Regions from separate parts of the Homo sapiens genome. Here region 1 is linked to region 2. The links come from fine-mapping of genetic effects on gene expression. Tissue or cell type: follicular helper T cells. Region 2 holds a variant in brackets; the other region holds the start of a gene. All regions are shown on one strand. Distances are from middle to middle.

Region 1 (4,396 bases), 240 kb before region 2:
ATTTTATTCATCACCACCATCTATAGTTAAAGAAACATGACTGTAGGCTGCAGTACAATTCATCCTATTTTGAAAATCATGAGTTTTGTGACAAAAGAACCACAAATGTTTATGTAACAGATTGTTGTCAGTAATGCATGTCAAAGTGACAGCTAAATTCACATGATCGATCTGCATGTGGCCCCATACACACGCGTGACTCACCTTTGTGCTAGTGGATTTCAGAAGTTTTTGATGTCTCTGCATGTATATTCTTGTAAGAAATCATTTTTGGAACAGGTTTTGTGAGGAAGGTGGTAGCACCTGATGAAGCCTCCTCACTTTATAACCTAAATTGGGCTAAGTCTCATAGTTATGGGAGAAAAGAACACTATAATTAGAACACTAACATTGGAAGTAAAAACGTTGTTTATAAGTAATTACTTGTAAAATTTTAAGTGAAATGTTTTTCTTCAGGCATGTCTTCAGGCTTTTGAAAAGTTCACAAATAAGAAAACCTGTCCTCTCTGTAGAAAGAACCAGTATCAAACCCGAGTGATACACGATGGGGCCCGCCTGTTCAGAATCAAGTGTGTGACCAGGTGAGGACGCCAGGCCCGTTTGGCGCTAAGCAGACACAGATCAGGCTATGACAACTAACTTGTTTTTTGAATAGTGGGATTTTATCTCTCTTCTTGGCCACCATAATTTCCCCAGGGCCTTGTACAGCACAGGGCTTATAACAACTACTGAAGTATTGGTTGACATAGAGTCATCATAAATTAGTCATTTTCAAATATCTGTGTTTTAGAATCCAAGCCTACTGGAGAGGATGTGTTGTTAGAAAGTGGTACAGAAACCTGAGGAAAACAGTACCTCCCACAGATGCCAAGTTAAGAAAAAAATTCTTTGAAAAAAAGGTAGGTAAAGATCATTATGTTCTCCAGATATGGTCTCCGTGCGGGTGGTTCACTTGGGGTCAGGAAGGCTAACAGAGGTGGTAAAACTTTGAGACTTACTTCACTTTGAGGGCTTTTTAAAAATGGGTGAGATGCTGCTAAAAATCCTGTTTAACTTTAGTTGGCTTTCCAACCTAGATGTTCAAATACTTCTAGACTTTCTTTTCTAGTTAAATCATAAAATTAGGTTAAATCAAAGCAACTTCTGTTTGGCCATTTTGTGCTAATTGTTTAAATAAACTTATCTCTTCAGACACAAGACTGGAAACCAGCTTAATTTTTCCCATCTCCTGGGCTATATGTAAATGAAGACATCTGCTGCACATCTCATAGTAATGAAAATAGAAGCTGCCTATAAAAATAAAGCCCCCACATGCTACCATTGTATTGAGTACCTCGTGGGGTCATCACAATGAGCTTTAGAGCTAACTTCCATGTCTACCCTTCCTCTTAACCACTATTTATGCTTTAGTTTTACTTTTGGGGGACTTATTTAACAATTTCCCATTCCTTGTCCCCATATGAAAAGGACAGTCCTACCCCATCAGCCTGTGGCTTCAGGCAAACAGCAGCAGCTCCGAGGCTGTCATATGAAAGCCATCACTTCTTCCTGGCAGTGTTGGCCTGAGAAGAGCTGTAGCATTTATAATGGCCCAGCACACAGTAGGTGCTGGAAATTCTGTATTTATTATCACTATTAACTCCTTTCCTAGAATATGGAGATGAGTTACTGTGTGTTCTGTTCCTGAGAGCAGTGTCTCTGATCTTCAGAGATCATTCGTCTCGGGTGTTCATTCTCAATTTGGTAAAGGACCGCCATGCACGATTGCGTCATCCTTCCTTTACATTCTTTCCAGTTTTTTATCTTCAGTCGTTGACAGTCAGTTGTGTTCTCTGGGCTACTCTTAGTAATTTCTAATATGTCATAGTAGGTTGTCTCTTAAATCAGAAGTGATTTTTTGTCACCTCTTATACAATTTTAATTACAGATTTGATAGTCATTTTACCTTATATATATAAATATTTTTCATGTGCACACATCATTTTATAAGAACTCTTGAAGATAAAGGCCCACTGAAAGTGTTGGTGGTCTCAGCCCATTGAACTGGACGAGAACTGGCCCAGGTTGCTGGAAACAAGTGAAGCAACCATTACAATGTGCCTTGTGTTATCTTGTAAAGTAGCCAGTGAAGGTTAAGTTTCAGCGTTCAGTGCTCAGGTGTTCAAATGCTGCAGCCTTCAGCTTCATGGAAAAAGGAAACGAAAAATAACAAAAAGCAAGTGACCAAGAGCAGTCGGGGCAGGGAGACCTGATCAAACAAGTTCCTCAGTTTCTAATTCAGTGTCTCCCACAGAGAGATGGAACTTTACAAGGCAGATTCATAGCTCTGTCCCACTGGACGTTGGGTCCGCTGCCCTGTGGCCATCCCACCTCCCCACAAATACTGTTTTTTGTTTTATCCTTGGTTCATCCCAACTGCTGCCTCCTCGTCCTGAGCCCTCATCGCTCGGAACGCCCCGCTCTGATCCCCGTGTCTGCTTTTCTGAGCACACTCTTGCCCGCCCCCGCATGTCCTGCCCGTTCCTACTGGTTCCCTCTGCCTTGCTTAAAATGTGCCAGTTTTTCAAAGCCTAGCTGAAGCTTTCTTCCAATTTCTTTGGTCTTCTCTAAACCTCTATTGTATGTTTAAACAACACCATCTAAGAGATCAAGAAGAACAGAAGTATGAATGCTATTCTAGCTTGTATATTACAAATGTGGTTTTTCCTTTGGGGCTTTTAAGATGATCTCAGATGATTTCAATAGCAAATTCACTTAAGCTGAATATCTGTGAAGAAACTGATAAGTAAAACTGATTTTTTATTTTTTGCAGGGGTGGTAGTTGAGAACAAACTGTATAAGTTGTTTTTTATTTTTATTTAGAGACAGGGTTTCGTTATATTGCCCAGGCTGGCCTCAAATTCCTGGGCTGAAGCGAACCTCCCACCTCAGCCTCCCAGTTAGCTGGGATTATAGGCAAGAGCCATAGGCTAGGGCAGTGGCTTTCAGACTTTTCCTCAACCACAATAAGAAATATCTTCTAAGCAATGTTGACAGAAAAACCAAACTCTGTAAAGTATTTTAAAGAAGTTGACTCTGACTGATACGAGTGACTGCAGGCCAGGAAACCCACTCTCAAGGAGTCCTGAGAAAGTGCACCCCGGGCGGTTGGATTACGGTTTGGTTTCATACATTTTAGGGAGGCAGGAGTTACAGGCAAAGACATCAGTCAGTACATGGAAGTTATACATTGGTTTGGCCAGAAAGGCGTGATATCTTGAAGTGGGGGTTTACAGATTGTAGGTGGATTCAGAGATTCTTTATTTGCAGTTGGTTAAAGGAGTAGGGCTCTATCTAAATACTGGAGTCAGCAGAAGGGAATCTCTAAGTTGAGGATGCTGCGCAGCAAGACTGATGGCCTGCGGCATGACTGTCCCTTGCCGGGCATGGCCTTAGGTCTTGTTTGTACTTTGGTTTCTTACTGCCTCAGACTGCCGTCAGCCTTATCACTTTTAAAGGAATACTGGTCACTTCAGCTTAAACTCCAGCAAGGAGTGGGCATAAGGGGCATCTCACCTTTCTTCCCATCGTGGCCAGAAATTCCATTGTTAAGGTTTTCCTAGGGCCCCCTTGGCCAAGAGGGGGTTCGTTCTGTTGCTGGGGGCCTTAGGATTTTTTTTTTTTTTTGAGACGGAGTCTCGCTCAGCTGCCCAGGCTGGAGTGCAGTGGCACGATCTTGGCTCACTGCAACCATCGTTTCCCGAGTTCAAGCAATTCTCCTATCTCAACCTCTTGAGTAGCTGGGATTACAGGCACCCGCCATCATGCCCAGCTAATTTTTGTATTTTTTAGTAGACACAGGGATTCCCCATGTTGGCCAGGCAGGTCCTGAACTCCCAGCTTCAGGTGATCTGCCTGCCTTGGCCTCCCAAAGTGCTGGGATTACAGGTGAGAGCCACCATGGCCTGGCCAGGATTTTATTTTTAGCTTACAGCAATGACCCACCACATGTATACAGTTAACAGAAACGTAACTTTCGCAAAGCAAAATCTGCTTTCACTGCAGGCACCACACTGTGTTCATTTTTATTCCACTTCGTTTCCAAAGTGCTGGGCCTACTACATTAATGTTATGGGTCACTGATGGGTTGTAGATATCAGCAGTCTGCATTATCAATAACTGCCACCTTAAACATAATACAAGTGACCGTGTTATCTGCTGAACTGTAATCTTACCTCATTCAAGTTTCAAGTGTGGGGGTGGGGAGGAACAGATGTATACATATACGCACACACACTCAGATCATAGTGAGGTTATACTCATAATTTGTTACATGAATAGGGATCCTATCATGTAACTCTTGCTCACTTAACTCATTTGGCCATAAACACTTGAAATCTGTAAACTCAGATCTCAT
Region 2 (4,396 bases):
CTAACATGGTGAAACCCCGTCTCTAATAAAAATACAAAAAAAATTTAGCCCGGCGTAGTGGCGGGCGCCTGTAGTCCCAGCTGCTCAGGAGGCTGAGGCAGGAGAATGGTGTGAACCCAGGAGGCGGAGCTTGCAGTGAGCCGAGATCGCGCCACTGCACTCCAGCCTGGGTGACAGAGCAAGACTCCATCTCAAAAAAAAAAAAAAAAAGTTATTAACACATAGGTAGGCTTTTTGTCTGCCCTAGTCATGGCAAAGACTTTATCCTGTTCACTATTTTTCCAACACCAAGCACAGTGCCGGGCACATGATAACAGGTTGATAAGCCTTTGCTGAATAAAGAGTCATACATGTAAATGGGGGGGGGGGGCGGTAGTGGGGAGCTAGCTTTTGCGGAATAACTACTGTATTCCAGGCACTTCCCATGCAGTATTTAATTTAACCATCACAGTGGCCCAGTGAAGTAGGTGCTGTCAGCTCCATATTACCATTGAAGACATTGAGGCTCAGAAAGGTTAAGCAACCTGACCTGGTTTGTACATCAAGATTTGAACCTAGATTCATTGACTTATTAACACCTGCTTTTCTCACAGTTCCATTGCTCTCTGCCATGCAATAAAACAAAAACAATTGCATCACCATGCATGACACATAGTAAAACATCCAGGTCCCTCTGTTGGAGATTCTGCCCTGACAACCCACCCCCCTTCCCCACTGAATTCTTCTGTAGTCCTGAGTGTGCTTGAGTATGTGCTTGAGTGGAGTATGCAACCAAGCATACAAATGAATCCAAGCTCACTCTCTGCCCCTCAAGTTTCGGGAATGGTGCATCAAGGCTCTCCAGAGGAATAGGACTAATTAGGGGGTGGAGGTGTAGAAAGAGAGGGTGGGAGAAAGATGTATTATGAGGAATTGGCCCACATGATTCTGGAGGCTGAGAAGTCCTAAGATTTGCAGATGGCAAGCTGGAGACCAAAGTATAAGTTCTAATTCGAAAGCCAGCAGGCTCAAGATCCAAGAGCTGATAGTTGAGTCTGAGGCCAAAGGCAAGAAAAGACCAATGTGTCAGCTCAAGCAGGAGGAGCTCCCCCTACTCAGGGGAGGGTCAGTCTCTCTGTTCTGCTGAGGACTTCAGCTGATTGGATCATGCCCACCCACATTGGAAGGGCCATCTGCTTTACTCAGGCCACCAATTCAAACATTAATCTCCTCCAGAAGCACCCTCACAGACACACACAGAATATTGTTTGACCAGCTATCTGGGCATCCCATGGCCCAGTGAAGCTGACACATAACGTTAACCATCACAAGTAGGGACCCCTGTTTTTATTCTCTTCTTAATAGGCTTGGGGAGAGGTTGGCCTCTCATGCTTCTAACTCATCAGCTGTTACCTGTGGGAGCTACTACCTACTCAGCATCGCTCAGGGCACTGCATTACGCCTTCCAGGCAATTATACAAGGTACTGCTTGAGCTTAAGCAAACTGAGAGAAGATTTAGCACACTTTCTAAAGGTAATATCATAAATAGACATTGATTCCAATCATTTTGTTTATTTTGAGATGGAGTCTTTCTGTGTCACCCAGGCTGGAGTACAGTGGCGTGATCTCGTCTCACTGCAACCTCCACCTCCCGGGTTCAAGCGATTCCCCTGCCTCAACCTCCCAAGTAGTTAGGATTACAGGCGTGCGCCACCATGCCCAGCTCATTTTTGTATTTTTAGTAGAGACGGAGTTTCACCATGTTGGCCAGGCTGGTCTTGAACTCCTGACCTCGGGTGATCCACCCACCTCAGCCTCCCAAAGTGCCGGGATTACAGGCGTGAGTCATCATGTCCAGCCTTGATTCCAGTCATTTTTATTGGCTCATGATACATCATCTTCAGTCATACATCATCTTCCTAAGCTTTACTTATCTATCTTGACTCTTTTTCTTCCAATTTCAACACACACAATTTAGGAGGGAAATGAGCCAAAATGGGGCAAGGCGAGAGAAGGAACAAATGGTCAACTGAACCTCTTTATGCCACAGAAGGAGCAAGACTGTCTATGGAGCAGTCAGGAACCACACATGTGTGAAGCCTAAAGGACCTTGGGGATCTCCTAGCCCTATTGCAACTAAGTCCCAGAGAAATTTAGTGACTTTCCTAAAGAGACACACGTTAGTGACCAGGGTAACCCAGACTTGCTGACTTCCAGCCCATCATTCTTCCCCTTGTTCCCCATTCCCACTAGAGGAGAACTTAGTGCCTTCCCAGCTTCTGAACCCACTCCTTGCCCCGGGTCCCCTCACCATCCTGGCTTCACTCTCCACTGGAGACTCATCCACACAGGGTCACAACTGCACTTTGTTGGAAGGAAACGGGTTGAAATACAAATTCCATGTGTTACACTCCAGCCTGGTGTCATGCCAGCTTTCATTTCTCAAACATTTTTGTTTTACCACCATTTTTAAGGCCATTCTGCCTTTCAAGCTTTTATCTTTTAGTTAAAATAACAAATATTTCTGAGCACTTAGTATTTGCCAGGCACTGTTCTTTTTTTTAATTTTTAAAAAATATTTCGTGTAGAGATAGAGTTTTGCCATGTTGCCCAGGCTGGTCTTGAACTCCTGGACTCAAGCAGTCGTCTTGCCTCAGCCCCTGAAAGCGCTGGGATTACAGGCGTGAGCCACTGCACCTGGCCTGTTTTTTTTCTTTTCTTTT[CTT/C]TTTTTTTTTTTTTTTGAGACAAAGTCTTGCTCTATTGCCCAAGCTGAAGTGCACTGGTAGAGACAGGGTTTCACCATATTGGCCAGGCTGGTCTTGAACTCCTGACCTCAAGTGATCCGCCCACCTCAGCCTCCCAAAGTTCTGGGATTACAGGCATGAGCCACCGTGCCCAGCCTTAAGTTATATTTTTAAAAGGTAATAAATGCTCCGACTCCATCATGTCCTGCTTGTGTTATTATACTTTACTCTTGAGGCCGCTTTCGTCAGCTGTAAAATGGTGTGCTCCTCCACCCTCAATATCGGTACATCTGGTAGCTAGAACTGGCCACAGTGGGAGTATTTACAGCACAGAAATCAGTCAATGATAACAAATCAGGGCCCCCTTCCCCTCCTTGAAGAGCTGGTTGTTAAGTAATTACAGCACACCATGGGAGCCAGCAACCGTTTTAGAAAGAGCCTCAAATGAAGATGTTCACACTGTGGGCTAATGTTGAACAACCAGATGATAAAAGGTGGAAATTGAGGAGACTGGACAAGACTCTCACCTGGTGGTTGGTCATCCCACGTGTCTGCAGAGGCGAATCAAGGGGATTACTAAAGGGAAAACAGGAATTTTTCTCAGGAAAACAGTTCTAAATTCATGAAAATACAATTAAGTTCAGAAACATCGATTACTTTTACACCAATCAGAAGTTCTTCTAGTCATACACATGTTTGTCGGTTTCTGAAAGGGGTGTGATACGGTTTGGCTGTGTCCCCACCCTAATCTCATCTTGAATTATAGCTCCCGTTATTCTCATGTGTTGTGGGAGGGACTCAGTGGGGGATAATTGAATCATGAGGGGGGTCCCCCATACAGTTCTCGTGGTAGTGAATAAGTCTCACAAGATCGGATGGTTTTATAAGGGGTTTCCACCACTGCATTCCAGCCTGGGTGACAAAGCGAGAATGTCTCAATAAATAAATAAATAAATGACAGAACCTACAAAGTGCAATGACACTGTAAAAGTTGGCTGTTAGTAATAGTATCAACGTCATCATCACCATTATTGTTATCATCTAAAAACCAAGATCTAAGCATGGATTATGCTAATATTTACAAATTGGGTTATATATGTATGCGATACTTAAACATTTTTTTTTTTTGAGATGGAGTCTCGCTCTGTTGCCAGGCTGGAGTGCAGTGGCACGATCTCGGCTCACTGCAACCTCCGCCTCCTAGGTTCAAGTGATTCTCCTGTCTCAGCCTCCTGAGTAGCTTGGACTAGAGGCACCTGCCAGCATGCCCAGCTAATTTTTTTTTTTTTTGTATTTTTAGTAGAGACGGGGTTTCACCATGTTGGCCAGGATGGTCTTGATCTCTTGACCTCATGATCTGCTGGCCTCGGCCTCCCAAAGTGCTGGGATAACAGGTGTGAGCCACCGTGCCCGGCCCAACATTTCTAAGGAATTCATGACAAACTTGTAACTTTTACACAGGGGATGAAAGACTAAAAGGATACTTAAAATGGAAGACAGGACCTTTACTTTGCAAAGAAATTCTGTGGCTGTCCTATCCATGAATCAAGATTTACAAGAACTAATCAGAGGAAATTGGTAGACACAAAACTGGAATTAGCTTGAGGAGAATTACAGGGTATCATGTGGAATTTAAGTCCACACATAAAAATAATATCACCCTCCTGAATCT

Direction of the effects. Alleles are on the strand shown, and positions count from the first base shown. SD is a standard deviation of normalised expression in the study named.
For the expression in follicular helper T cells of the gene that starts at base 2,288 in region 1, C is the low allele of the variant in region 2 and CTT is the other (large effect, 1.4 SD a copy in Schmiedel 2018).

The links. PIP is the estimated chance that this variant, and not a neighbour inherited with it, causes the effect. A credible set is the group of variants that fine-mapping cannot tell apart.
Region 1: it holds the start of RNF32-AS1, and the variant in region 2 is the best candidate, but not a certain one, in a credible set for the expression of RNF32-AS1 in follicular helper T cells (Schmiedel 2018, PIP 0.61).

What each region holds. Positions count from the first base shown.
Region 1 is chr7:156,657,672-156,662,067 of GRCh38, forward strand. RNF32-AS1 (RNF32 antisense RNA 1) reads right to left here and starts at 2,288. Exons shown (of 3, transcript NR_189275.1): 1 at 205-2,288; 2 at 1-20. It overlaps RNF32 (ring finger protein 32), which reads left to right. Exons shown (of 9, transcript NM_030936.4): 6 at 457-581; 7 at 791-899. RefSeq lists an enhancer at 1-670.
Region 2 is chr7:156,898,477-156,902,872 of GRCh38, forward strand. All of the region lies in intron 2 of LOC102723795 (a long non-coding RNA gene), which reads left to right. Among named protein-coding and RNA genes, the nearest start is that of LMBR1, 7.5 kb to the left of the region's middle. The variant CTT/C (reference allele first, on the strand shown) is at 2,704.